7 linked regions of the Homo sapiens genome follow. The protein of the gene in region 2 purifies or fractionates together with the protein of the main gene of each other region. This does not show direct contact. Each region holds a gene or a part of one and is shown on either strand. Other genes may lie near its edges. The genes, in order: PWP2, TECTB, IDH2, DDX27, WDR3, UTP15 and AGPAT5.

The links.
Region 1: the proteins of TECTB (region 2) and PWP2 purify together in Homo sapiens (affinity purification with mass spectrometry; one large-scale study listed by BioGRID and IntAct). This does not show direct contact.
Region 3: the proteins of TECTB (region 2) and IDH2 purify together in Homo sapiens (affinity purification with mass spectrometry; one large-scale study listed by BioGRID and IntAct). This does not show direct contact.
Region 4: the proteins of TECTB (region 2) and DDX27 purify together in Homo sapiens (affinity purification with mass spectrometry; one large-scale study listed by BioGRID and IntAct). This does not show direct contact.
Region 5: the proteins of TECTB (region 2) and WDR3 purify together in Homo sapiens (affinity purification with mass spectrometry; one large-scale study listed by BioGRID and IntAct). This does not show direct contact.
Region 6: the proteins of TECTB (region 2) and UTP15 purify together in Homo sapiens (affinity purification with mass spectrometry; one large-scale study listed by BioGRID and IntAct). This does not show direct contact.
Region 7: the proteins of TECTB (region 2) and AGPAT5 purify together in Homo sapiens (affinity purification with mass spectrometry; one large-scale study listed by BioGRID and IntAct). This does not show direct contact.

The regions. Positions count from the first base shown.
Region 1 is NC_000021.9:44,123,950-44,128,268, forward strand, and holds part of PWP2 (periodic tryptophan protein 2 homolog), read left to right. Parts: intron 1-630; coding exon 631-778; intron 779-2,061; coding exon 2,062-2,170; intron 2,171-2,950; coding exon 2,951-3,016; intron 3,017-3,982; coding exon 3,983-4,201; intron 4,202-4,297; coding exon 4,298-4,319. UniProt on the Homo sapiens protein: Part of the small subunit (SSU) processome, first precursor of the small eukaryotic ribosomal subunit.
Region 2 is NC_000010.11:112,302,334-112,305,722, forward strand, and holds the end of TECTB (beta-tectorin precursor), read left to right. Parts: intron 1-929; coding exon 930-979; 3' UTR 980-2,705; downstream 2,706-3,389. UniProt on the Homo sapiens protein: One of the major non-collagenous components of the tectorial membrane. The tectorial membrane is an extracellular matrix of the inner ear that covers the neuroepithelium of the cochlea and contacts the stereocilia bundles of specialized sensory hair cells.
Region 3 is NC_000015.10:90,091,960-90,096,278, forward strand, and holds part of IDH2 (isocitrate dehydrogenase [NADP], mitochondrial isoform 1 precursor), read right to left. Parts: intron 1-4,319. UniProt on the Homo sapiens protein: Plays a role in intermediary metabolism and energy production. It may tightly associate or interact with the pyruvate dehydrogenase complex.
Region 4 is NC_000020.11:49,225,700-49,230,018, reverse strand, and holds part of DDX27 (probable ATP-dependent RNA helicase DDX27), read right to left. Parts: intron 3,590-4,319; coding exon 3,484-3,589; intron 1,305-3,483; coding exon 1,131-1,304; intron 1-1,130. UniProt on the Homo sapiens protein: Probable ATP-dependent RNA helicase. Component of the nucleolar ribosomal RNA (rRNA) processing machinery that regulates 3' end formation of ribosomal 47S rRNA.
Region 5 is NC_000001.11:117,946,438-117,950,756, reverse strand, and holds part of WDR3 (WD repeat-containing protein 3), read right to left. Parts: intron 2,353-4,319; coding exon 2,251-2,352; intron 1,007-2,250; coding exon 921-1,006; intron 763-920; coding exon 627-762; intron 1-626. UniProt on the Homo sapiens protein: Part of the small subunit (SSU) processome, first precursor of the small eukaryotic ribosomal subunit.
Region 6 is NC_000005.10:73,571,930-73,576,248, forward strand, and holds part of UTP15 (U3 small nucleolar RNA-associated protein 15 homolog), read left to right. Parts: intron 1-559; coding exon 560-695; intron 696-4,319. UniProt on the Homo sapiens protein: Ribosome biogenesis factor. Involved in nucleolar processing of pre-18S ribosomal RNA. Required for optimal pre-ribosomal RNA transcription by RNA polymerase I.
Region 7 is NC_000008.11:6,756,712-6,761,030, reverse strand, and holds part of AGPAT5 (1-acyl-sn-glycerol-3-phosphate acyltransferase epsilon), read right to left. Parts: intron 3,869-4,319; coding exon 3,643-3,868; 3' UTR 1-3,642. UniProt on the Homo sapiens protein: Converts 1-acyl-sn-glycerol-3-phosphate (lysophosphatidic acid or LPA) into 1,2-diacyl-sn-glycerol-3-phosphate (phosphatidic acid or PA) by incorporating an acyl moiety at the sn-2 position of the glycerol backbone.

The sequences.
Region 1 (4,319 bases), on a different chromosome or scaffold from region 2:
ACTGTTCCTTGAGCCACTTGTTCCTTTTGTGAAAAAGACATTGATTCTCAGGAAGCGGAAGCATCTAAGGGTGGTGCTGGCTCAGAGCGGAACCAGGTGATGGCACCATTGGACATTGTGGGTTTTAAAAGTCTCGCGTGAGTTGAGGCAGCGAGCCTTGGCGAAAGTTGCTGAGGCTGGTGTTTGCTTCCTGGAGGGCTGGTATAGGATCTCCTCTATTTCCTAAGGTTAGTTTTTATTTTATTTATTTTTATTTTTATTTTTATTTTTGATTTTTGACACGGTCTCGCTCTTGTCACCCAGGCTAGAGTACAGGAGTGCAATCATGGCTCACTGCAGCCTCCAACCCCTGGGCTCAAGTGATCCTCCCACATCAGCCTCCTGAGTAGCTGGGACTACAGGCATGTGCCACCGCACCCTGTTAATTTTATTTTTTGTAGAAACAGGGTCTTGGTATATTGTCCAAGCTTGTCTTGAACTCCTGGACTCAAGCAATCTTCCCAACTCAGCCTCCCAAAGTGCTGAGATAACAGGCGGGAGCCACCATGCAGGCCTAAAGTTGGTTTTTAGGAGCCATACGCTGAGGTTTCCGTGGTGGCCACCGTAAGTCCATGTCTCCTCTCCACCCAGGGCCTTCACCGCCCTGTGCTACTCTGCAGACGGCCACAGCATCCTGGCGGGAGGCATGTCCAAGTTCGTGTGCATCTACCACGTCCGTGAGCAGATTCTCATGAAGAGGTTCGAGATCTCTTGCAACCTGTCTTTGGACGCCATGGAGGTGAGCCGCCAGCGCGGGGCCGGATGGATGTTGCTTCCAATGCAGGTGGAATGCGTCGGGCTCCTGCGTTCTGCACTCCTGGCTCCATGGGGCCTTGGGCACAGTTGTGGTGCTTGTCCTGTATCTAAGTGCACGGGCCCCTCACCTGCCCCAGCAGAGTCCGGCCGTGAAGCCAGCACCTGCCTCAGCTGTGTGTGGAGCCACGGTCCCCAACCCTTTTGGCATTTGGGACCGGTTTCGTGGAAGGCAATTTTTCCACAGACAGGGTTGGGGGGATTGATTTTGGGATGAAACTGTTTCACCTCAGATCAAGATCACCAGGCATTAGATTCTCAGAAGGAGGGTGCAACCTAGATCCCTCACGTGTCGTTCACAATAGGGTTCGCACTCCTGTGAGAATCTAATGCTGCCACTGATCTGTCAGGAGGCGGAGCTCAGGTGGTGATGCGAGCAATGGGGAGCGGCTGTAAATTCAGATGAAGCTTCACTCATTCACCTGCCCACCACTCACCTCCTGCCGTGCAGCCTGTTTCCTAACAGACCATGGGCCAGTACCAGGGGTTGGGAACCACTGCTGTGGATGACCCTGCCGAGGCTGGTTGCTAGGAGGCTGGAGCTGTGAGGGGCAGTGCCCAGCACACGCTGGCTCAGGAGACACGGACATCTGTCAGGGAAGGAGTGAACGAAGAGGGTGCTGGTAGGCCCTGCCCGATGGCTTCCTGCCCGGGGTCCTGTGTACAAGGCTCTGCCTTCACTGTCCCCACTGGTGCCTGCCCTTCCCCCTCAGCACAGCCCTCGGCTCAGGTCCCACTCACATGCTGGCTCCTGCAGGACCTCAGAATGAGAGTGAGGAAGCCCTGGTAGCCTCTAAGCAGGGGTGTGGCTGCTGGGTTCACCTGTCCACGCCCCATCGGGGCAGAAGCCCACTGTCCCCTAAATGTTTCTGGGGGAAAGTGTCCTTGGCATTTTCACAAGGGAGTAGACGGCCATCCTCGCTGTGAGCCCCAGCCTTTGTGATGGTGGCAGCAATGCCAGCATGTAGACCTCAGTCCATCCCCCTCCGCAGCCTCCGCACCTGCCCTGCTCCACAGCTTCCACACCCACCCTGTCTGCAGCTAGCTCTGCAGGAAGAGTCCCTGGGGCACTGCAGGGCTCTCTCCCCGTCCTTGTTCTAGACAGGGCTGAGGCTTGTCTGGTGTTGGGGTCAAAGAGCAAGGGTAGGAGACGAGGGCCAGGCGGCCAGGCCATCAGAAGCAAGGCGTCCACTGCTTTTGCTGTTCTAGGAATTTTTGAACCGAAGAAAAATGACAGAGTTTGGCAACCTGGCACTAATTGATCAGGATGCTGGGCAGGAGGATGGAGTCGCGATACCACTGCCAGGCGTCAGGAAAGGTGAGCAGAGGTTCCTCCCGCATCTGCCCACCACTCACCGGTCCTGGGTGACCACGCATTCATGCCCCTGGTTGGGGCTGCAGTGTGTGGAAATAACAGTTACTACATGGTGACATTTGCTGGACACTGGGGGTGTCAAAGGCCCAGTGGGTTGGTGCTGGTGCCGTCAGCCCCTGGGCAGGAGAAGCTGCCCATGTGTTGCTACACGTGGCCTCCCTGCCCTGGCGGGACCCGTCCATTTGCTCTTGGGACTGGGTGCCCCGTCTGCTGCACAGCACACGGAGCATTCTGGCGTGAGGCCATGTGCGCCGCACAGAGAGCCAGGTGCTCTAGAAGATCTGGGTCCCAGGTAGACCATCCTGATGGGACACTCGCCAGCCAGAAACCCTGAGTGCTTCCATATGCAGGCCCAGGGTACCGTGTTGAGCACAGCAGACCCACTCCTGGGCTGGGCTGGGGCCCTTTTCTGGGTTGGACACACAGTCTGCTGGCCGGGCTGGCTTTTTTGAGCATCTGCCCCATGGGCTGGGCCATCTGTTTGGCAGCTCACCCGGAACAGCCTCCGCGGCCCCAGCACGGGCCCACCTGCCGCAGCTGCAGCGAGGGAAGGGCTGCTTCTGCCTCCGCTTTGTGCAGGACCCAATGAGTAGAGGCTGCTGCTCTTGATGGGGCTCCCACAGCACCCCCCAGCCAGCCGGGAGACCGCAGGATGACTTGCTTCGTGGGGAGAGCAGCCTGGATATGCTGTCCAGTGATCATTAACGGTTCTTTTTTCCCCAGGTGACATGAGTTCTCGGCACTTCAAACCTGAGATCAGGGTGACCTCACTCCGCTTCTCTCCCACTGGTGAGCACTGAGCCATGGGCTTTTGGTGCCGGTGGGCACTGGGGCATCTGTGCCATAGCAAGGCTGGCCACCATGGAGCTGTCTGCAGGCTCTGGGCTGTGCCCTGTGCCCCTGGGTAAGAACATGGCCCTGCAAACCCTGCAGGCCACAAGATGGCTGTTGTCCCTGAGGATGGATGGCTGTCACGGTGCCAACCTCAGATGCACTGAGCTTTGAAACATGGCAGGCCTGGTATGCCCTTGCTCTAGCAGCTCCCCGAGTGCCCTGGACGTGCTGCCTGGGGGCGGCTCTGCCATCACGGAGAGCCCGTCTCCTGCGCACTGCCCCCATCCTCTCGCAGTGGGGAGGAGGGTCTGTGCCACAGGCCTGTGGAGCCTGGCGGTGCACATGGTCCCCACACAGAGGAGCCAGGAGCAGGGCTATTGGCAAGCGTGCTCCAGCCTAGACTGAGTGTCAGAGCCAGGGGCAGAGAGGCCCATGTGAGCCAGGGGTCTGTGCCCTCGGGCCCAAGGGCCAAATCTGGCTGGCCACCTGCTTTGGTCACTGATGTTTTACTGGGACATTTTACTGGGCGTTTTTTTGTTGGCGGATCCTTCTGGCTGTCTCTAGTGATCCGTGCAGCACTGAGTAGGTGCAGCAGAGACCACAGGGCCTGCGGAGCTGAAGACGCCTGAGCTAGACAGAAGACTTGGCTGGCTCCCGGCGTCAAGAGAGGAGGACGCATGCGTGTACATATTTGCTTATATGTGCATCCCTGGGAGAGTAACTTCTGGGATGATCCATTCATTCCTTCCCAGGGGAGTAGTGGGGTGGGGGCTAGAGGCAGACGTCCCGGTTCCTCCTGATTTTTGCACTTTGTCCCAGGGGAATGTACTTAATACTGTTTCTTTAAAAAAAAAAAAAAAGAAAAAAAATGTTGGGAGGAATGAGCTTAAATTTTTAGGAAAGCACTGCTTAATTTCCCAGGGCGCTGCTGGGCGGCCACCACCACGGAGGGACTCCTCATCTACTCCCTGGACACCCGCGTGCTCTTTGACCCGTTTGAGCTGGACACCAGCGTCACCCCCGGGAGGGTGCGCGAGGCACTGCGCCAGCAGGACTTCACCAGGGCCATCCTCATGGCCCTCCGGCTCAACGAGAGCAAACTGGTGCAGGAGGCCCTGGAGGCGGTGCCCAGGGGCGAGAGTGAGTTGGGGCTTCGGTGTCGGGCGCCGGGGTCATCCTCTCTTCCCCTGGTTTGAGTTGGTGGCAGAATAAGCATGATTTTTTCTCCTTTTGCAGTTGAAGTGGTCACCTCCTCCCT
Region 2 (3,389 bases):
GAACCGAAGGTAAATCGGATGAAGCAGAACTGGACCTCACTTCCCCAAGTCTTAGTAAAGCCATCCCCAGATGGCTTCCCTTGGATTCCAACATTTACAGAACAAGATTTTCAGTGATCTGTTCATTCAACAAATATTTGAATTCTTGTTATGGCTCTGTCTTTTATTAACTGAGTGACCTTGGGCAATGACCTCACCCCTCCTCCATACCCTAGTTTCCTCTGTGAAATTGGGCTAATAATTGCCCCTATCTACATGGCTGTGGTATAGATATTTAATTACAGCTAAGGGCACTGAACAATGCCCAGCAAACAGCAAACACCCAGTCAGGGTCAGCCATGATTATGATGACTGTACTGGGAACTGGTCTTGTGGCTACTGCCGTGAACAAGACAGACAAGGCCCCTTCCCTTGCCAATATGTGTAGAGTATTTGGGGTTCAATGGGGGACGTGATTTAGAGAGCAGCCAGGGAAGCCCCTTAGAGGAAGAAACATTTCAGCTAAGACCCAAGATCTCACCTGAATGATAAGAAGGAAGCAACTACATGAGGAGATGGGGTAAGACAGTTCACTTATTAATAATCTCACAGACAGATTTTGCTCTCATCATTACAGGAGAATCATGTAAATCAACTTTTAAAATTCCAATCCTAGATTCTCATCGTTTTTAAGTTCTACACTGAAAGCCCTAGAGTACCATGCACCATCACTGATTTCTATTTGTCAGAGGTCCACAACCTAGGTTTATCTGTCAGGTTCTTTGTACTGATAAATGTGAGCTACAGAATCCCCAAGGGATGAACAAAATCGACTTTGTCTAAAATGTGTGGAATTTTATGAAGACCCCTGAGTTAACTCTTCTGTTGAGTTGGCTTTACCCTTGTAGAACTGTCTCTGAGTGCCATCTCCCTCCCCTTCTGGTCCACAGATGTTCTCCACCACCTCATCATGATGTTGGGGATTTGTGCCGTGTTATAGGAGTTAGCCAGGCAGCTGCCGCTCCTCCACCCACAATAGTCCTCAGCGAATGACAAACACATTTATTGTGCTGCCAAAAAGAACAAACAGAAGACCACATTGTTGGGGGGCAGAGAATAGCACTTTGCCAAATATGCACTCCAATAATTTCTGTGAATTTGGTGATGCCTTTTTCTTTCTAAGAAAAACTTAGGCTACTTCCCGTGGCCCTTAGATCTCACAGTCCTTCTACAGCTGGGGGAGGAGCCTCCTTTCTCCATACTCAAGTCAGGGCTGCAGTAAATTCCTTTGAAAGCTATTTTAACTTTAAAAGGTTAGCAGACCCAACCAAGTACTGCTGAGCATTTTGAAGAGAATGTAGGGTGCAACTACAAAGTCAACACTAAATGCACAACGCACATTAATAGCTGACTTTGCCAAAAAGGAGCTTTGTCATTGAGGCAGTGTCATTCTACTTAAGGACCAGAGCTGAGCCCCCACGCAGGGAGTTCCAATCTTTCAACTGATGACATGGGAGATGATGTGGGATTCAGAGTGGAATACAATAGTTTTGCTCAAACCTAATGATATAAAGGAAATAGATTCTTGAAAGCCCCTAGTACTGACCTAATTTGTTTTTATTATACCATTTGTTAAATATATAAACATGATATAGGTAGAAACTCCTTGTTTTTATAGCAGATGTATACTTCTAAAGTCAAAAGAAAATTACAAATTAAATAGGAATATTTACAAAAAGAATAATCACAAGAAGAATACAACTCACATTAATTTAACCTAATAACACGGCATTGCCCCAGTGAAACTGCTGCTGGAAACATGACTATAAAGTGACTCCAATGACACAAGTGCTGTGAGTTTGGTGACCCAATCCTACAGATAAATGCCTTGTGACACTCAATGCTATTTTTTCTCTATTTGCTCTACTAAGAAGTTTTCATTTATAAGAAATGGTCTGATCTCATTTAGCTTTTACTTAAACATCGAAGCTTACATCTGTTTTTGTCTCATTCACTTACAATCATTAGAATGAAGCTAACACAAAATCAGAAACACAAATGCAAATGCAGCCAATGAAAGCATGCAGTAGCACATCTTGGTAACTGGCCACCCCAGTGATCCAGAATATGCCCATATAAATGATTTACATTGTCAACAAAATACAAACTGAATGAACCAATTCTGGTAGAGAATTGGCTGGATTGTGATAGGAAAAGGCAGAGTTCTAAGTCCTTAGTTATGTAAAGACTTAATTAGTAGGCTTATAATTTGAAAACAACACATGGGTTTGTCTCTCTGTATTTAAGGTATTTGAGAAGTTTTGCAATTTGCAGTTTGATGATTCTTTTACAACTTGTGTTAGTGAACTCAGAGATTAAACTAGTTATGAAATCTCCGGATACATGAAGTGTATGTTTGTTTAGTAATAGGCTAAAGTAAAATGACTCAATTTGGTCTAGACTTGGTCTCTAAGCTGGAGTTCCAACGAGTTTAGGATCTCTTCTTTCTGTAAATTCAGAGTTTTTATAGTCAGGAAAAACAGAAGACATATTTTATTGGTTCTAGTAGAAAACTCTTAAATAGCATACTCATAGCCATGTTCAAATCCTTTGCTGTCAGAATAAACCAATGTTGTATTAGTTTTGCTGTATTTCATCATTGTGTTTTATGATCTTGTATCTCTACCTGGCGCTATGGAATAAATAAAATGCCTTAAAATAAATAACCTATGACTACAGTTTACAGTGTTAATATATCATGTTGACAGCTAATTCCCCAATTCTCCCAGGGGTTTCTACAACTAGAGCTTCGTAGACTCGCATATATGCCACAGACTTTTTTTTTTTTTTTTTTTTTTTGAGATGGAGTCTCGCTCTGTCACCACCCAGGCTGGAGTGCAGTGGCGTGATCTCAGCTCACTGCAAGCTCTGCCTCCCAGGTTCACACCATTCTCCTGTCTCAGCCTCCCAAGTAGCTGGGACTACAGGTGCCCGCCACCACACCCAGCTAATTTTTTGTATTTTTAGTAGAGATGGGGTTTCACCATGTTAGCCAGGATGGTCTCAATCTCCTGATCTCGTGATCTACCTGCCTCAGCCTCCCAAAGTGCTGGAATTACAGGCATGAGCCACTGCACCCGGCTTGCCACAGACTTCTAATTATTCTATCCTACCTTTACATTTAAAAAACTCCCAGTATTGGGTTTCTGATGCAAGGAGGTAAAGCCAATCTGTATGATTAACATTTTGGGGAAAAGGTCTTTTGGGTCATCCCTGCCTATAGAGCCCGAATGTCTCTCACCAGTGACTGGATGTGTTTTGACTTGACATTAACTAACAACCTCATGATGTTTGATTACCCTTCTTGTCTCATAACTTCTTCTTTGAGAAAATAAGACAAGGTACTCTCA
Region 3 (4,319 bases), on a different chromosome or scaffold from region 2:
CTACCACCTGAGCTCATGCCTGGGAACTGCGCACACGAGGGATCTAGGTTGCATACTCCTTATGAGAATCTAATGCCTGATGATCTGTCACTGTCTTCCAGCACCTCCAGATGGGACTGTCTAGTTGCAGGAAAGCAAGCTCAGGACCCCCCGATTGTACATTATGGTGAGCTATATAATTTTTTCATTATATATTACAATGTAATAATAATAGAAATAAAGTGCACAATAAATGTAATGCACTTGACTCATCCCAAAACCATCCCCGCTGCCCACCACCCTGCCACCCGTGGAAAAATTGTCTTCCATGAAACTGGCCCCTGGTGCCAAAAACTTTGGGAACTGCTGGTTTAGAGCACCTGGATCCATCCATCCTTACTTACTTCCTTTCCTTTCTTTCCTTCCTTTCCTTTCTTTCCTTCCTTCCTTCCTTTCGTTCCTTCCTCCCTTTCTCTCTCTCTTTCTTGGCAGGGTCCTGTTCCATTGGTCAGGCTGGAATGCACTGATGCCATCATAGCTTACTGCAGCATTGACTTCCTGGCTTCAAGTGATCCTCTGACCTCAGCCTCCCAAGTAGCTGGGACTACAGGCGCATGCCACCACACCCAGCTATTTTTAATTTTTTTTTTTTCTGAGACGAAGTTTCGCTATTGTCCCCCAGGGTGGGAGTGCAGTGGCATGATCTCAGCCCACTGCAACCTCCGCCTCCCGAGTTCAAGTGATTCTCGGGCCTCAGCCTCCCAAGTAGCGGGGATTTCAGGTGTGCACCACAACACCTGGCTAATTTTTTGTATTTTTAGTAGAGACAGGGTTTCACCATGTTGGCCAGGCTGGTCTCAAACTCCTGACCTCAAGTGATCCACCTGCCTTGACCCCCGCAAAGTGCTGGGATTACAGGCGTGAGCCACCGTGCCAGCCTAATTTTAAAATTTTTTTGTAGAGATGGAGTCTTGCCCTGTTGCCCAGGCTGGCTGGACTCCCCACCCCACCCCCACTTTAATCTGGCTAGGTAGAACTACCCAAAAACATGCCCAGCCCACCAGTGGCCAAGAGGGTGGGGGCCAGTCTGGCCTGTCAGACCCTCTCCCCCTGGAATATGAAGGCAGAGGAGATCAACACAAAGAACACTGGCTAGCTGCGGCTGCCTCATCCAGCACCAAATCAGTAAGAGGTTGTCCAGGGGCTCCTGCCATCCAGTTCCTAAGGAGGGCCTGGGTCCTCTTTTATGTATTTACTTATTGTTTAGAGTCAGGGTCTCTTTATCTCTCTCTGTTGCCCAAGCCAGGCTCAGACTCCGGGGCTCAAGCAATCCTTGCACCTCAGCCTCCTTAGTAGCTGGGGCTACAGGCCCATGCCAAGATATTACTTTTGTCCAAGACTTAGTTCTTTATAGTTTTCCCTGCAATTCTATGAGCTACGCTGTGTAGCTCATAATAAAATCCTCTCCAAGTTAACCAGTCACTAACTTTGTCTGTTGCGTGCAACCCAAGAGCCCTCAACTAACTTGTGGTGATAAAGGAAATAGTATAGATAGGTATTGAGTGCCTACTATGTGCCTTACAGTGTACCAATGCTGTACAATGTGATTCCATTTAATCCCAAAAACAACCCCAAGGAGGTATCATTACCTCCATTTTATTTAATTAATTAATTTATTTATTTATTTATTTATTTTTTGAGACAGAGTCTTTGGTCTGTCACCCAGGCTGGAATGCAATGGCGTGATCTCGGCTCACTGCAACCTCTGCCTCCCGGGTTCAAGCGATTCTGCTGTCTCAGCTTCCTGAGTAGCTGGGATTACAGGCACACGCCACCAGGCCCGGCTAATTTTTGTATTTTTAGTAGAGACGGGGTTTTGCCATGTTGGCCAGGCTGGTCTCGAACTCCTAGCCTCAGGTGATCCACCCACTTTGGCCTCCCAAAGTGCTGGGATTACAGGCGTGAGCCACCACGCCTGGCCATTATCTCCATTTTAAGTGTGGGAAACTGAGGCTCAGAGAGGTTAACAGCTTACTGCCCAAGGTTACAGAGCTTGAAAACAGCAGAGTCACGAGGACTCTGACCCTATTCAACAGGAAGGACAGGCTTACAGCACCTGCGAATGGAACTCAGAACCCTTGATCCCAGCCGACGCAGGTGGGTCAGTCCTACCAGAGAAGCATCAAAGGACTCAATGAGGGGCTGATCAGAGGTCCAGGGAGACCAGTGGAGGGTAGGGGGCAGGGGACGCTACTGAAGGAGAGTCTGACTCGCAGGAATACCCAACAGTCTGGGAAGTGAATTTCAAAGAAAACTCAGGAACTGGCCACCTAACAATGAATCAGTACAGCTGCCTTGGACAAGGCTTGTTGAACCTCAGCCTGCAGCAGATAGGGGCACCGGGGCACCAGCCTGCTCCTCTGCCCACAGCCTGGGAAGAAGCAGCAAATGCAGAGCAGGGAACAAGATCTAATAAAACTTCAGTCACAGGGAAATCTCACCAGCTCAGCTGAGAGCTGTGCCCTTTCCTCAAAGCAGCACTCCTCAGCCTCACTTACAGCCCAATTACTCTTGTGTTACACACAGTCCTTAGAGAGGTGGTGATGTGTCTTCAGCTCCACTCTAGATTAGACACAGCAAATCAGGTGAAGGGAAGAGAATGATTATTTGAAAACACTGGGTTGGGGCTGGGTGTAATGGCTCATGCCTGTAATCCTAGCACTTTGGGAGGCTGAGGCAGGTGGATCACTCAAGGTAAGGAGTTCAAGACCAGCCTGGCCAACATGGTGAAACCCCATCTCTACTAAAAATAGAAAAATTAGGCATGGTGGCACGTGCCTATAATCCCAGCTACCGAGGAGGCTGAGGCAGGAGAATCGCTTGAACCCGGGAGGTGGAGGTTGCAGTAAGCCAAGATCACGGCACTGCACTCCAGCCTGGGCAACAGAACGAGACTCCATCTCAAAAAAACAAACAAACAAACAAAAAAAACTGGGTGGGAAGAACTGACAAGGGACAGAATACCTGTGAAAAGCAGGCCTAGAAACCACCTCGGCACATTTAAAACAAAAGTGATTAAAGCCTAACAGACCTCAAACAACTGACTTTCCAAAGATATGCAAAGAGTTTGTTTTTTTTTTTTAATCTAAAAATAATCTTAGAGATCATTTAGGGGGAATAATGAGACTCAGAGAGTGTGGTCTGCATCAGAGGCAAGATAGAGCCCAGGTCCCTGACCCAAATGCAGCCTCTGGAAGACCCGTGGGTCAGATGTAGAGAAGCAGAACACAAACACAGCCTTGGACTATTCCATTCCCTAGAGAACAAAAGGTGGCTGGCTGCTGGCTCTACTGCCTTTCCCAAGACGCGATGGGGATTTTGAACCCAATCTACAATATTCCTTCACTTTTTTCTGAAGCTTGAGTGGAAAGAGCTGCAGAACCTGCGGAAAGTCTGTTGAGCTGTTGCAGAGCTAGTTTAGTTCTGGGGAGCATCTCCTATGAGTTAATTTGAGGACAGCTAATCAAATTTGTTAAAAAAAAAAAAAAATGAACTATCATAATCAGGAGCCCTAAGGAGAGACTCACTTGGGGCCAGTTCTTCAGGTTTCAGCCTCAGCCTGGGCTCCACGGTTGGGCTTCAGGCAGGCATGGCTAGGAGAGTTCAAGGTCAAGATCAAAGACCTGATGTGTCAAACCCTCAGAGACCACAGGACCTGATTATTTACTCACCGGCAGGTGCTAACTAAGCACTTATCCAGTACCCCACTGGGATACTGAAATGCCTAAAACACAACAGTGCCTGCCCGGAGGCAGTGAATGTGGAAGGGGAAACCTACAGGTAACAGAGAGAGAGCAAGCAGGGCTGTCACCAAAGTCAGGAGTGCCCAGGCCTCCCTGGAAGCAAACATCCCAGGGGAACTGAGAACAGCAACATGAGCCAAGGCCAGCAGAGACTTGTTCTGCTTGTTCCAGGTACTGGTTTTTTAAAAAAATCTTAATTGGTGACCAAGTTTTAAAAATCAGTAAATCTCAACAATAAAACAAATAACTCAACGTTAAAATGGACAGAAGACTGGCTGGGCACCGTGGCTCATGCCTGTAATCCCAGCACTTTGGAAGGCTGAAGAGGGCAGATCACTTGAGGTCAGGAGTTCGAGACCAGCCTGGCCACAATGGTGAAACTCTGTGTCTACTAAAAATAGAAAAAAAATTAGCCTGGTGTGGTGACACACACCTGTAGTCCCAGCTATTTGGGAGGCTGAGGCAGGAGAATTGCTTGAACCCAGGAGGTGGAGGTTGCAGTGAGCAGAGATCATGCCACTGCACTCCAGCCTGGGT
Region 4 (4,319 bases), on a different chromosome or scaffold from region 2:
TTAAAATTGTGCTAAGTGCAAAAATCAACAATGATGATGACACAAAAGCACTTCAGAAGAGAATGCATGGGCTGGGCGAGGTGGCTCATGCCTGTAATCAATCCCAGCACTTTGGGAGGCCAAGGCAGGTGGATCACCTCAGGTCAGGAATTCGAGACCAGCCTACCCAACATGGCGAAACCCCATCTCTATTAAAAATACATAAATTAGCTGTGCATGGTGGTGCACACCTATAATTCCAGCTACTTGGAAAGCAGTGGGAGAATCACTTGAACCCAGGAGGTGGAGGTTGCAGTGAGCCAAGATCATGCCATTGCATTCCCACCTGGGCAACAGAGTGAGACTTCCTCTCAAAAAAAAAAAAAAAAGAGAATGCCTGAAACATTCAAGGACTAAGAGAAGCAGCTGAGGAAAGTGATGAGGTGTCTGTTACAGGGAGACAAAGATCACTTCTGACTTCCAATAGCACAAGGAGGGCAAAATGCAGGCTAGATAACACTATCATATAACTTCATTGGAAAAACGCTGCCCAAAGTAATATTTGATTCATTATTCTCACAGAGCAGAAATTATACCCCAAATTTGTTCAGTACCACGAAAAAAATGTTCATAGTTTTCAGGTTTCATTTGTGAAGGTTGGTTAAGTCTCAATCAAATCCCACCCACCTAAAGCACTATGAAAACATGTCGGCTGGGTGCGGTGGCTCATGCCTGTAATTCCAGCACTTTGGGAGGCCAAGGCAGGCGGATCACGAGGTCAGGAGATCGAGACTATCCTGGCTAACACGGTGAAAACCTGTCTCTACTAAAAATACAAAAAATTAGCCAGGCGTGGTGGCGGTAGTCCCAGCTACTGGGGAGGCTGAGGCAGGAGAATGGCGTGAACCCGGGAGGCGGAGCTTGCAGTGAGCCAAGATTGCGCCACTGCACTCCAGCCTGGGCGACAGAGCGAGACTCCTCCGTCTCAAAAAAAAAAAAAAAAAAAAAAGTCTTCCAGTTTTTAAGTGGATTCAATCAACACAAAGGCCTCTCCTGGCACCTGTCACCAACACCAACAGATGGCGGGGCACATCCATCCTCCACCCCACCACAGTCTCTCAGGGGCTGGCAGCCCTTGGCCAGAAACTCACCCACAGCCAGGCAGGTGGTGATGTTGCAGAACTGGGCCAGCTGTCTGGTGACAGAGTGCACCTGGATGCCCAGCTCTCGGGTGGGCACTAGCACCAGCACGCGGGTGACTGGAGCCTGGCGGGGTTTATAAATCAGACGCTCCAAAACAGGCAGGGCAAAGGCGGCAGTTTTACCTGGAGGGAGGGACAGCAAGGAAGCAATGAGAAGAAGTTTAGCTCCCTCCAGGGTTAGGTTTTCACCAGAGCACAGAAAAACTACGTCTGGTTGGGGAAAATAAAGGAACTTATTTTTCATAGAATATTTTTTCTGCTTTCAAATCACATGGTCAGGCTCACATATGTAATCCCAGCACTTTGGGACGCCGAGGCAGGCGGATCACCTGAGGTCAGGAGTTCAAGACCAGCCTGGCCAACATAGTGAAGCCCCAATTCTACTAAAAATACAAAAAACTTAGCTGGGCATGGTGGCGGGAGCCTGTAATCCCAGCACTTTGTGAGGCCAAGGCAGGCGAATCACCTGAGGTCAGGAGTTCGAGACCAGCCTGGCCAATATGGTGAAATCCTGTCTCTACTAAATATATAAAAATTAGCCAGGCTTGGTGGTGGGCACCTGTAATCCCAGCTACTCAGGAGGCTGAGGAAGGAGATTCACTTGAAGGCAGAGGTTGCAGTGAGCTGAGAACGCACCACTGCACTCTAGCCTGGGTGACAACAGCAAAACTCTGTCTCAAAAAAAAAAAGAAAAAATACAGCCAGGCACAGTGGCTCATGCCTGTAATCCCAGCACTTTGGGAGGCTGAGGCAGGTGGATCATGAGGTCAGGGGTTCAAGACCAGCCTGGCCAAGATAGTAAAACCCTGTCTCTACTAAAAATACAAAAATTAGCCGGGCATGGTGGCGTGTATCTGTAATCCCAGCTACTCAGGAGGCTGAGGCAGGAGAATCGCTTGAACCCGGGAGGCGGAGGTTGCAGTGAGCCAAGATTGCGCCACTGCACTCCAGCCTGGGCAACAGAGCGAGACTCTGTCTCAAAAAAAAAAAAAAAAAAAATTTCCTCCTCTGATATGGCAGGGCCAGGAGGCCATGGTCACAGAGATCAGGGATACCCCAAGAGGATTAAATGAAAATGACCTTCATCAGACCCTTTGAAACTTGTGGCCCACTACTAGACCGGACATCCTCTCATGCACTGTTTATCTTACAAAATTAATCCTTCAGTATGCCAGGCACGGTGGCTCACACCTGTAAATCCCAGCACTCTTGAGAGGCTGAGGCAGGTGTATCACTTGAGGTCAGGAATTCGAGACCAGCCTGGCCAACATGGTGAAACCCTCTCTCTACTAAAAATACAAAAATCAGCCGGGTGTGGTGGCGGGCACCTGTAAACCCAGCTACTGGGGAGGCTGAGGCAGGAGAATCACCTGAACACAGGAGGCAGAGGTTGCAGTGAGCCGAGATTGCGCCACCGCACTCCAGCCTGGGTGACAGAGTGAGACTCCATCTCAAAACAAAAAATTAATCCTTCAGTAAACTGAGTAAGCTCTGCAGTCTAGGAAACACTGTTGTATCAGTGCCAATTTCCTGGTTTTGATTTTGTCCTACAGTTATGTGGGATGTCACCATTGATGAAGGATTCGAGAGACCCTATGCACTATTTTTGCAACTTGCCACTGATCTACAAATACTTCAAAATAAAGTGGTTAAAAATTTAAAAGTCCTTTACTCTCGGCCGGGCGCGGTGGCTCACGCCTGTAATCCCAGCACTTTGGGAGGCCAAGGCGGGCGGATCACGAGGTCAGGAGATCAAGACCATCCCGGCTAAAACGGTGAAACCCCGTCTCTACTAAAAATACAAAAAATTAGCCGGGCGTAGTGGCGGGCGCCTGTAGTCCCAGCTACTTGGGAGGCTGAGGCAGGAGAATGGCGTGAACCCGGGAGGCGGAGCTTGCAGTGAGCCGAGATCCCGCCACTGCACTCCAGCCTGGGCGACAGAGCGAGACTCCGTCTCAAAAAAAAAAAAAAAAAAAAAAAGTCCTTTACTCTCTCAATTGCACCAGTATATCTTTTTTGTGTTACAAAAATTTTATGGCCAGGCACAGTGGCTCATGCCTGTAATCCCAGAACTTTGGGAGGCCAAGATGGGAAAATCGATCGCTTGAACCTGAACCTAGGAATTCAAGACCAGCCTGGACAACAAAGTGAGACCCCTATCTCTACAAAATAAAAAATAAAAATGAAATAGTTCAAAAAACCAAGAATATTTATTTAGCAAACCAGCCTTTGGTAAGTCAACCTAGAGCCCAGCCCTGGCCGTAACACCCTTCTGCCCACCCTGGGTCCCTATCCTTTTCACCTGTCCCAGTGGCTGCACAGGCACAGATGTCCTTCCCCAATAGACCCACAGGTATGCACGCCTTCTGGATCGGGGTGGGCTGCTTGAAGCCCATGGCTGTAATGGCCTGAGGAAAAAAGAACTGGGTCAGACAGGGTTGAGCGGGGGAAGTCTCAGCACAACACAAACAGGGCAGGTTTCCAGACAAGTGGGGACCACACCAATCCCCACCAATCATTCGTTCCACAAACATTCACTGAACGCCTACTATGTGTGAGGTGGTGCTCTAGACACTGAGGACACAGCAGTAAATAAAAGAAATAAAAACCCTGCCCTCAGGAATCTTACAGTCTGGTAGAAACAGACCAAAAAACAAACACATGTCATATGGAGAGATGCTGCGGAAAACAATGCAGCGGCCAGACGGGCAGCAGGGGGAGTGCTATTCACGGTAGGGCTGCCAGGGAAGGTCTCACTGAGCAAGGGATACTGAGTTGAACCCTGAAGGAAGCTAGAGAGCACCCCAAAAGATTTCTGGAAGAGTTTTCCAGGCAGAGGGAACAGAAAGTGCAAGGGCCCTGAGGAAGAGGAGGCCTAACCTATTTGAGGGCCAGCAAGGAGGCCAGTGTGGCCAGAGCAGAACGAGTGCCAGGAGGTGTCGTCAGAGAGGGCCAGAAGGGGCAGAGCCTTGTAGGTCAATATAAGGACTCAGGCTTCTAAGAAGAGTGAGACTGGGAAGTACTGAAGGACTCAGAGAAGAAGAGGAGGGACACGATGGAACTCATTGCTTAAGAGAGTTCTCGGCCGGGCGCGGTGGCTCACGCCTGTAGTCCCAGCACTTTGGGAGGCTGAGGCGG
Region 5 (4,319 bases), on a different chromosome or scaffold from region 2:
ACTTTAAACACATTTTTAAATTGCTTTATATCTGTATTTTCAAAGACAACCCACAAAAGACAGCTTGGCAGGAGTACCTGTGTCCACTACACAGACCCTCCATGTGCTTGCCAAGAATACTGCAGTATAGTGGAGGCAAGGAAGCCCCCAGAAGCTTACTGCCTCAGTCAGATCTCTGTATCTCCTCACTGAAAAGATTCCAGGGCATTTGTTTCACAAAAAAATTTCCCAGGCCCAACCTGGTCCTATCAACTCTCTGGGTATAGGGCTCAGTAATCTATATTTTTAAAAGCAACCTAGATGATCCTAATATATAGCCAAGTGTGAAATCACTGCCCAGGACACCTAGCAATGCTCTTATAACTACTTAGTATGACAGAATTTTCTGTCCACAAGATTTTTTGAACATATGAAATATAACTTGCTTTAAACAAAATTCATGAACCATAGAATTATTTTAAAATGCTAGCTTCCCTAGCATAGTTACATTGCTTTGATTCACACACACATTTTTAGAAATGTACTATCGCTGGGCACAGTCAAGGCCACTTCTTTATAGCCTCAACCCAAATTCTTAAGGTCAGTCAGTCAGAAAGGGAAAATATCCGCAGGCATAACCACTGTACCTTTAAAGTATCAACGTAGAAAATTTTCACAGTACAGTCCAGCAAAGACACAGCCAATAGCTTTTGATTGGGAGAGTAACTGACACACAGAACATCTTCATCTAGTTGCAAAGTTCGGGTTTGCTTCACAGAAAGTCTAGCACCACAAAAAACATCAAGAAAAAATAAATGAGTATACAAATTCAGACAAATCCTAACTCTTTAGAGCACAACAAATGATATAAGACGTCAAAAGGCCATTCCATAGCTCCCCATTTTCACTCCAAAAAATGGACACAAAAAATGTCTACTCACCTCTTTTGGGTACTATTTTCATCTTTCACTAACTCAAAATCCCAGAATTTGACAGATTTATCTGCACCACCTGTCACAAAGCCACGCTGAAAATCAAATGAAATTTCAATTAAAAACTATTTTAGCATAAAAACTTTGCTATGAAGATACATTTTAAAAGTCTAAGAAAGTATTTTTATTTAACGTCATGGGATAAAAATTAAGAAAAACGTGGTTCTCCCTAGCCCCTTTCACTGATCTTTTGGGTCTGCTGCCACAAACCTTATGTGAAAATTCCTACCATCGACTAACATAGGCAGAAATAATAACTAATGAAAAGTTCTAGTTATACTATTATCTAGCATCAAGAAGAAACAAAAACTCTCAGTAAACCAGTTTGAAAAATATACATAGAATGGATAATCTAGATTTGTTTAAAGTATTCACCTCAGAAGGATATAAATTTAGTCCTGCAATGTCCCTACTTAAAATAGTTTTGAAGCTGTTTTCCGTTATCAAGAAAATTAGTCTCATTACATGGCAGTGTTAGTGTAAAGTACATAGAACACTGGATCTCAAGTGTCTGTCCCTCATAGATTTATAACACAGGAAACAACCTTTCCGTAAATCCCTAGTTTTGTTGAAAAAAAGACCACACAGTTTATGGAAAAGATAGAACACTCTACAAATGCAAGATTTATTACTATTTTAGACTCACAGCTGTTTCGTTTGGACCCCAAGTGGTATTAAACACTCTAAACTTCAGTGATTTTTTCCAAAACTAAGTTCTACTTTCAACGGATGAAAATTGTCTATCATTGAGAATATTTAAATAAATGGGCCAAAATTTCTTAAGGTGTTGTCAAAAAAAAAAATCTCAAGATTTTCTAAGCAACAGCACCATTATTAGAATAAGCATACTTTTGCCAGGAACTGCTCTGAAGGTGAGCACATATTTATTGACTTGTAAGGGCTGACATACTTGCTAAAACTACTTAGCTTATACAGTCATAGATGTTTGTTTGAGGAAAAAAGGGGAGCAGCAAAGTCTATTCAGTTCTCTGCATCATGTTGCCCAAGAGAATATTCCCCCTTAAGAAGTATTACAAAACATTGGCAAAAAAATCATGATGGTAAGCAATTTGATGTCACGCTGCTGATAAGCAAAAGTAGCCAAACAAGATTTCATTTCATAATGACAGGTGGTCATTTATAAGAAGGCATCATATACAAACACTAAAGATTAGACCAAAAAAAAAAAAAAACCTCAGGCTTTCTTTAAAGAAACCCTGAGAGAAATCAGGGTAGCCACAGGGCTGAACTCCAGGGCTTTAAAATCTGGTTTAGTTACCTGATCTGGAGAGAGGGACATGGACCACAAAGCTCCATCATGTGCATCTATTGTCTCCAGCAGATTCCCTGAAGCCAAGTCATAAAGCTGCAGCTTCCCTGTCTGGGAAGACACAAAATGAGCACAGCTCCAATGAACATACGTACAACCTCCATGATTCATGACTGCACAATTTAGAAAAGACTTCATAACCAAGCTGCAAAAATGTGATCCATTGCTTAGGAAATGGATCCCACATTCCATGTTCTGTATTTCCTACCTGATTAAATACTATTAAATCCCCTACTGATGTGCTGGGTTAACCTTGGCAGGGCTACCATAGTGTAGAAGTATGGAATAATACCACCATGCAGTACTGGATGCATTACTTTCATTGGTTACACAACTTCACAAGGAAAATATCATGACCATAGGCAAATCAGAATAAACAAAATAGCAAATGCAAACCTAAAAGCCTTTAAAGTTTAGCCAATCCTTTAAGCGGATGATCCTCTATAGTTATTGGCTTAAGCAACCACCTCTTTTCCATCTGCTTTTGGTTTCCTCCTCTGCAATACATTGACAATAAGAAATGGGATCTACCTACAGCACTAAGGAAGGCAGTGAATTTAAAAAAAAATCATAATGGCATAGAAAGCAATCACTCTAAAATTCCTATTTAGAGGTCTGTATATGCCATAGTCATGGTGTCAGCATGTAACACACACAGAGGCAAAGCCTGTTTTACGATGAGCTTCTGCACAAGGTGGTACAGACAGCATAAGCTAAAAGACTTGAGTACCAGGTCTGCTTTGTGCCCATTGGTAAATTCATCCCCATGAACCTAGTTTTTCATCTGTAAAATGAAATTTATATCACCAATGTTTCAAAGATGTTGTCAGGATTAAATGAGATAATGTACATTAATTGCCTAGCACAGCCAGTAAGCCGACAATTGCATTTTAGCCACATGGGTAGTCTTAAGCAATTAAAAAACTACTTTCCCGACGGCAAATCAGAGATGGACATTTGTTGAAAGAGTGAAAAAGGAAGGAAAGTTTTGAGATGTGAATACTGTTTCCTGGCATTGTTCCTAAAATCTCTCCAGCCTACATTTTTTTGTTGAAGCAAGAAATATCCATTGTGATCCATACATTTTGTAATAAAACTCATGTACATATGGCTTTGTTTTATGGGAATAATAATGACAAATACTTGCAAAGCACTTTTCAAAACACTCCATAGACCTTGTTCCATTTTATTCTCACTACTGGTACAATCACTACTGCTATGTCTGCTACCAGCTCTATTATCGATTAGCTATTCGCTGCAGGCTAGTTTCTCTGCTAAGAGTTTTGTATACTTCATCTCTGTGAAATGGGTCAGTAACGTCATTTTCCACGAGAACACCAAGGCTAACAGGGTTAAGGTCACATAGCTAGTAAGTGCCAGAGGCTGGTACCAGTCCATCTGGTACGAAAGCTGCTGTCAAAAAGCAAGTGTCGTCATCCCATAATATAAAGGAACACACTATGAGCAGTTATGTGACTTGCTCCAAATTACTCATTTTTTTTTTTTTTTTTTTTTGAGATGGAGTCTTGCTCTGTCACCCAGGCTGGAGTGCAGTGGTACTATCTCGGCTCACTGCAAGCTCCACCTCCCGGGTTCACGCCATTCTCCTGCCTCAGCCTCCCGAGTAGCTGGGACTACAGGCGCCCGCCACCACACCCACCTAATTTTTTGTATTTTTAGTAGAGACAGGGTTTCACCGTGTTAGCCAGGATGGTCTCGATCTCCTGACCTTGTGATCCGCCTGCCTCGGCCTCCCAAAGTGCTGGGATTACAGGTGTGAGCCACTGCGCCCGGCCCAAATTACCTATTTCTAAAGGGCAGAAACTAAATCCAAATCCATATCTGCTTATTTCCACATGGTTGTCTCCCAATCTGACTAGCACCTAGGAATAAGGACTTGATCAGTTTGTCTTTACTGAATGCTTCTGTCTGCCAAGCATGATATTAGGTACTTAATATATTTAATTATTACCCTTAATATATTTTATCATTAATTAAAACACAATTACATATGCGCC
Region 6 (4,319 bases), on a different chromosome or scaffold from region 2:
CAATCCCTTAAGGTCTCTAGACCTTGAAAATGAGAGGGTTGGACTAGATCAGTGATTTCAACTGTGATCCCTCTTGTGAGGTGCCACATAGGAGTGGAGAGGTGGGAACTGTGAGTTGGGTTCCAACTCCTGTTCCCCAGTCAAGATTTCAGTCTCCCCTTCCATCCCTTTTTCTGTCTTTCCATATTAGACTTTTTTGCTTGATATTTTGCTGCAGATCTACATTATTCACTTCCACTGCTATATAGAATTTCTTTTAAAAAATGATTTTATTATAATTTTCTTAAAATGGACTCTTTCAGTTATACATTTATTTTGCTGGAATTTATGTACACTTCACAAATATTATTTAATGGTCATAACAGTTCTGTGAGGTAGGAACTGTTATTACCAATGACCCAGGAAGTGGTGCATCCAGGATTTTACCAGGCAGCCTGGCCTGGACTCCCTCACTCAGCCTCCATGCTTTGTGGAGTGTCCAGAGAAGAATGCTTTTCAGATCTTTAATATGTTGAATCTGTGGGCAGAATATCCAACTAACGATGATTTCTTTTTATAGGAGGTCGTTATGTTAAAGTCTGGGACATGTTAAAAGGAGGACAATTGCTAGTATCTTTGAAAAATCATCACAAAACCGTGACATGTTTATGTCTAAGCAGCTCTGGACAGAGGTTACTCTCTGGCTCACTGGATAGGTTGGCATTTTAATTTTTTTGTATATTATTATTAGTGTACACCTGTTTACTGCTTGAGGAAATGAGTTATTTCAGCAATATTTGTGATAAGTATACAGATAATGATTTCCAGGAGAAAAAAACCTGTTGAGTTGAAAATAGTTTTGACCTTTTGTTTACATATAGCTACTTCTTTTCTTTTCTTTTTTTTTGAGACAGAGTCTCACTCTGTCACCTAGGCTGGAGTGCAGTGGTGCAATCTCGGCTCGCTGCAACCTCCGCCTCCCAGGTTCAAGTGGTTCTCCTGCCTCAGCCTCCTGAGTAGCTGGGATAACAGGCACGCGCCACAATGCCCGGCTAAGTTTTTTATTTTTAGTAGAGACGGAGTTTCACCATGTTGGTCAGGCAGGTCTTGAACTCCTGACCTCGTGATCCGCCCACCTCAGCCTCCCAAAGTGCTGGGATTACAGGCGTGAGCCACCACACCCGGCCACCCATAGCTACTTATTTTCTCCTTTGACACAATTTGTTTTAACTTGTATACTTAAACAACATTATTGAACCATTTGAATGATAATCTTTCAAATAATGTTATTCTATAAACCATCTTTTAAAATCATTATTGTACATTCATATATTTTGAAGTTTTTTTTTTTTTTTTTGAGACAGAGTCTTGTTCTGTTGCCCAGGCTGGTGTGCAGTGGCACAATCTGGGCTTACTGCAACCTCTGTCTCCCAGGTTCAAGCGATTCTCGTGACCCAGCCTCCCAAGTAGCTGGGATTACAGGTGTGCAGCACCATGCCTGGCTAATTTTTGTATTTTTAGTAGAGACGGGGTTTCGCCATATTGCCCAGACTGGTCTCGAACTTCTGGCCTCGTGTGGTCTGCCCACCACGCCCTCCCAAAGTGCTGGGATTACAGGTGTGAGCCACTGTGCCTGGCCTGAAAAGTTTTTTAAAAATTAGATAAATTAATTTTTTTTTTTTTTTTGAGATGACATCTCGCTCTGTTGCCCAGGCTGGAGTGCAGTGGTGGGATCTCAGCTCACTGCAACCTCTGCTTCCCGGGTTCAAGCGATTCTGCCTCAGCTTCCTGAGTGGCTGGGATTATAGGCGCTTGCCACCTTGCCCGGCTAATTTTTGTATTTTTAGTAGAGACAGAGTTTCGCCGTGATGGCCAGGCTGGTCTGGAACTTCTGACTTCAGGTGATCCACTCACCTTGGCCTCCCAAAGTGCTGGGATTACAGGCATGAGCCACCACGCCTGACCTAAAAGTTAGATAGCACATTTTATTTAGCCTAATATCTAATGTAAAAATAAAATATATATTACATATAAAATATAATTTCAGTATGTAATCTATGTCAAAATTATTAAGATACTAGAAATAAATTAAGCATCTAAACATGTGCACTATGATACAATAATCATATTTTAGGTTGGTACAGTGGCTTACACCTGTAATCCCAGTGCTTTGGGAGGCTGAGGTGGGAGGATCACTTGAGGCCAGGAGTTTGAGACCAGCCTAGGGAATATAGTGAGACCCCATCTCTACAAAAAATTAAAAAAATTAGCTGGCCACAGTGGTACACACCTTTAATCATAGCTACTAGGGAGGCTGAGGCAGGAGAAGCACTTAAGCCGGAGTTTGAGGTTGCAGTGAGCTGTGATAGTACCACTGTACTCTATCCTGGGTTACAGTGATACCCTGTCTCTAAAAAAAAAAAGATAATATTTTATAAAAATTACTGTCTCAGTTTTTAAATTAAAATTAGATAAAATAAAAAATTTAGTTTCTCATTTTCACTAGCCACATTTCAAGTGGTCAGTAGCCATGTGCAGCTAGAAGTATGGCACAGTTCTAGAATTTACATGATTTATTATTAATTTTTTTTTTTTTTGAGACAGGGTTTTGCTCTGTCGCCCAGGCTGGAGGGCAGTGGCATGATCTTGGCTGACTGCAACCTCCACCTCCTGGCTTCGAGCGATCCCCTCGCCTCAGCTTCCTCAGTAGCTGGGACCACCGGCACGCGCCACTGTACCTGACTCATTTTTGTATTTTTGTTGAGATGGGGTTTTGCCATGTTGCCGAGGCTGGTCTCAAACTCCTGAGTTCAACAGATCCTCCCACCTCAGCCTCCCAAAGTGCTGGATTACTGGCGTGAGCCACCGTGCCCGGCTTACATGATCTATTTTTTATTATTTTATTTCCATATTTTCATTTTTTTCTGCTCTTATGAAAAACTTTAGTTTTCAGCATGTTAATTAAAAAGTATACAGTCATCTCTTGGTAACTGAGGAGAATTGGTTGTGGATGCCCAAGTCCCTTATTTAAAATGGCATATTTGCATATAACCTACACACATCCACTGTATACTTTAAATCATGGCTTGCTTATTTGTAATACCTAATACAATGCAAATGCTATGTAAATAGTTGTTACACTGTATTTTAAAATTCTGTATTGTTTATATATTTATGGATATTTTCAATCCATGGTTGGTTGAATCTGCAGATGTGGAACCTGCCATAAGAAGGATTGACTGTACATATTTTAAAAGCTAGAAAATATTTTTAATACAAAGGAATTTTTTATGTAAATACATGGCAAGTTTACACATGTTACTGAAATCATGTTACTCGGCAATTTGGGACTTGATTCTTAGGTATGTTCCTAAAAGCTAAGTGTAAATTGGCTCTATTTGTGGTGGTTTCAACCAAGAGTGATTTTTGTTCCTCAAGGAACGTTTGACAATATCTTGAGAAAGTATTGTTTTTTATCACAACTCATGGTACTTACCATATAGGGGATAGAGGCCAGGAAGGCTGCTAAACATCCTACAATGCACAGAACAACCCCCACAAAAAAGAATTCTGTGCCCCAAAATGACAGTAATTCTGAGGTTGAGAATCCCTGATCTTTGGCTTCATGTGTACTTTCTTTCTTTCTTTTTTTTTTTTTAATTTATTTTTTTAGAGACAGGGTTTCTTCAAGTTGCCCAGGCTGGTCTTGAACTCCTGGGCTCAAACAATCTGCTGTCCTTGGCCTCCCAGAGTGCTGGGATTACAGGTGTGAGCCATCACACTTGGCTTTGTGATGTGCTTTCATTGATAATTTTTTCTTTTTTTTTTTTTAAGATGGAGTTTCACTCTTGTTGCCCAGGCTGGAGTGCAATGGCGCGGTCTCGGCTCACCGCACCTTCTGCCTCCTGGGTTCATGTGATTCTCCTGCTTCAGCTCCCAAGTAGCCGAGATTACAGGCATGTGCCACCATGCCCGGCTGATTTTGTATTTTTAGTAGAGACAGGGTTTCTCCATGTTGGTCAGGCTGCTCTTTAACTCCCGACCTCAGGTGATCTGCCCACCTCGGCCTCCAAAAGTGCTGGGATTACTACAGGTGTGAGCCACCGCACCCGGCTAATACCTTTTCTTTACTCCCAAGTTTGATCTTCAGATGACAGTGGCTCATGGTCTGTCCTTCTGTTTTTTTTTTTTCCTTTTTTTCTTTTTAAATTTTTGAAACAGAGTCTTACTCTGTGGCCCAGGCTGGAGGGCAGTGGCACGATTTCGGCTCACTGCAACCTCTGCCTCCCAGGTTGAAGCAATTCTCATGCCTCAGCCTCCTGAGTAGCTGGGATTACAGG
Region 7 (4,319 bases), on a different chromosome or scaffold from region 2:
GGAATAGATTTACTTTTCATACACAAATTGGAAAAGATGTCAAATATTGATGATAGTATCGAAGAGTTGTAGCTACTCTAAACTGAGTAAATTAGCGATTGTACAGACGAGCACTTCATAATAGTTGAAGGTTTTAAATTCAGTTAATTACATGAATATTTGACAAGTATGTGAATGTTGTAAATATTTTGACCAAAGTACTAATTTTGATTCTAATGATTGCATGTTACATAGTCTCTATATAATGTCAATTATACTAAGTGATAACGTAATTTCAAGTTCTTTAATCAAAAAGTGTGAGTTACTCGTAATGAAAACTGGCCCAAAAGGAGGGAGAAAAAATCTTGTTTATAAAGCAAGCCATGCAAAACTACAACGACATTGCATTGTAGCTTTCCACCAGATACGGAATATCTGCCAAGAAAATATTTCACTCAATCTTCAATCTAAACACTACTAAAAACAAATTAAGGTTAAAATTATTTTACTATGCGCTTGCAATTATACACACAAAATACTGCTTTGGTAGACATTTCTCTCTCTTTTCACATTTTTTGTGGTACATATCTGGGAGTTACTGTGTGTCTATAATAAGCAAATTTTATATTTCTATATTTCCTTTTCATTTTCTAAGAGTTGGGGTCTCGTGCTGTTACCTAGGCTGTAGTGCAGTGGTATGTCCATGGCTCACTGCAATCTCAACCTCCTGGGCTGAAGCGATCCTCCCACCTCACCCTCCCGAGTAGCTGGGACAAACTACTCAGTGTACGCCACCATGCCTGGCTAATTTTTTTTAATTTTTTTGTAGACAGGTTCTCGATATGTTGCCCAGGCTGGTCTTGAACTTGGCCTTATTTCCTTCTATCTATGATCAGTCTAGTTAGATCACTTGATTGACACAGACCTATTCAAAGAATATAATTATGAACAAAGGAAAAAATAAAGCTTATGTAACCCATATTAAGCAAAATTGTTGCCACTCTAAATTTTAAAAATCACATGGAAATGAAACATATGAAAAACTATCAGTATGTATGGTGTAAGAGTTAGCCAGATCGGCACTTTTATTCACCAACTTAGTTAATTTAAGGCATTTGACATGTTTCACTGAGATCACTTAATGATTACAGAATTGCCAAGCAAATTAACATCGGCCATGCATCTTATAAATTGCAGATGAATTTATATAACCAAACTAATATACTGCTTAACAGTTTTGATTATTTTAGTGTATTTTTTTAAAACTTTGCTCAAAGCTTAGGGAAAAATATTGTGAAGAATGCAGGGCCAGTCATTAAGCCTATTTTATGTACTGGGAGACTGTTGGTGAATTTTAGGGTCAAAAAATGTTAAACAGCACAGCCATTAGAGACAGTGAAAGATTTTATTTTTTTTTTTACTTTCATCCAAACACACCCTTTTCTGAAAAACATAAAAGCATGCACATCGACGGCATTCTTATAAAGAAAAATTAATAACTAAGCTGTAAATCAGTAATAATACAAACAAAAGTTTAAATGATATGTGAAAAGACTTACAGGTAGGTATACGGCTCTTAATTTTAGAAAATAATTCAAGTCAGTATCAATACAGGTTAAGGAGAAGCTTCTAATTTTCCAAACATTTTGATACAAAATTTTTTTCAACGACTGTATTTTATAGACCTTTTGTGAGAAGATTAGTATAGTTCTATGAAACCTAACATTCAAGTGATCTTATGCAGGTCAGGCTACCTTGTTAAAATGAGTTAGAATCCACATAATTCCAACAGTATTGCCTCTCAAAGTTCAAATTTAGAACATACCCATTATATTCAAAATATATTAAATCCCTGTACTTAACAAAGACATGGAATTGATCTAAATTTTACTTTACAGGTAAGAGAAAATTACAATTCAGCATGAGGAAATTTTCATAAGTTTTACCCATGCCCCGATTATTAGGCCAACTATATCCTGAGTGTCCATGGATGTGTGCATACATTCTAATGTACACAAACCAATTCACACCACACGACTCTTCAAAGATGATGCTTGAAAGAGTTTATTCTCTGGCATGGGAGAAGCAGTGTAACACAGTCACTTAATTTTCCCTTAATCATTATTTCTTTCATTTTGCTTATCATGATCCAACTGGTATGTTTAATGTGGGCCACTGATATATTTCTGCAGCAAAAATCCAGTAGCAGTAAGCAGAAATGTCAACTTAAAGGACTATGAGGAAATCGAAGTTTAAATTATAACACAAAAATAGAACAGTTCACACTGAAAGGTCTTCTCCCATGGGATATATTGTTCCATGGCTAAAAATCGTGATCTGGTTCCTGGAACACAGCTCTTGCTCTAAGGCGATACATATTAATGTGTAGCTCCACTAAACCTAATGGGAAATAAACAAATTCGTTCAGTCATGACAAATTAAGTCTGTATTTCACTGGCTTGAGAAGGTGAACTTCTTGACACAGACAAATGCAAAATGCCTCTGCAGTAGCTGGTGAAGCCCACTCACAAGGGCTTAAAGAGTTCAACTCTGAAAGTGGGCAGCACAGGCTGGCTCTGCATTTCTTCCTAGCAAGTCTGCGTGCAAGCCGCTGAGCAGCACCACTGACGGGATCCAAGGGAAGGACCAGAGCCCAGTGGGAATCCACCACACTACAGAAACGCGACTTCTGAATGAATATTCTGTGAAATCAAAGAGAAGCAGGCAAAAGGCACACGCTAGTAAATCTAGGCAGAATGTCTGCAGGCTCTCATCACCTTAAAAATCTTGTGAACTTGGGGTCCAACCAAGGTTCACACCGACTCTTTTGATATTAAAAAAACAAAACAAAACAGAAAACCTTAACGTTTTCAAGCACTTATGGCACAGACAAAGGGAAGTACTAATAGTGTAGCTTAAATCTTCAAAAAGCTGGGAAATTTAAAGTTCTGCTATAATGAATCAGAGTCACAATTTTAAACTTCGTTCTCATATTTTATACCATTTTCTGTGTGTACAGGGTGTGCAAATTAAGCAATTTCAATAAATATTAGAAATTTATTTTGCAAATATAAAATGAGTAAAATCAGCTAATAACGCAATACAATAAAATCATGTGCTAAACAGAGCTTTTTCCCCATGAACACTTTTTACCCTTTCCTTTGAACATCCTGACACTTCCTAAATACAATTTATTTCACTGACTTGTAGAAATAAGCAAAAGATGAAATATTAACTAGCTGCAAGATACTAAATACTTTAGTAATAAGAGCTTGGAGCTGTCAAGTTGTAATAAATTGAAAATAACAGAAAAAGTGAAATACGCTGCAAATTAATGCTCAAAAATGCAGCCATCTGACTTGCAAAATACACAATCCTCCCAGCCTTCTCAAGTTGTCATTAGTTCATAGGAAATGGACAGAGCAGGAGAAACTCCATTTAGCTTTTACCCTTCCAGCAGCCCCGATGCTAAAGTTGTACAACCAGGTATGTTTGCCCAAGACCATTGCATATCAGCTTTCGTCACAAATTCTATTATCCAATCTTCAATCAACAAGGCTTTATTTACACTCCTTAATAAATTCAGGAAACAATTTGATGTCATGTGCAGCCGCCAAAAATAGACAATGTAGCACATCCCACTGTCTGGAGACAGCTACTTGTCTATGCTTTAATAGTAACCCACAGGCAGCCAAGTAGGGTTCCATATATCCAGGTGTTCACATACAGCTTCCTTCCAGCATCGGTCATAAGCATGCCTGCAGTCAAACCACTTAAGATCAACATTGATGGTAAAGTCTTCTTGATACTTAATTTGGAATTAACACTTTTCCCAGGAAATCTTTTTCTTCTTTCTGGATCTGGTGACTCATAAAATTCTATAAGCATCCTATGGCCAGAATGGAAAAAGTTTAGATTTTAGTCACTTCAGTATTTCAATTCAAAAAATATCAATCAGGTAGCTATTACACGCTGGAAAAGTTATGCAGGTCCCTGGAAAATAAGGATGAATACGGAAACATCCAGAAACTTGGTTTAATAGAAGTTTCTAGTCTTCTAAAATATCTTTAATATGCTCTATGATTAGTATACATGAATTGTATATGTAATATTTCAACAGGTGGTTTTAAGGCATTTTATGAGGATGCTTTTTGTCTTTTAAACTTTTGATAAAGTTTTACAGTGACCTGACTCACAAATGGCTAATAACCCGCTGCAGCTTCTCCTCCTTTTTACATGGAGCTCCTATTCCGCCAGAAGTCAAAGATAGGACCAGCGGTTCTTAGACAGCGGTCCCTCTGTATCGACAGGGGGCTGGTCCCAGGATACCCGGCAGAGAC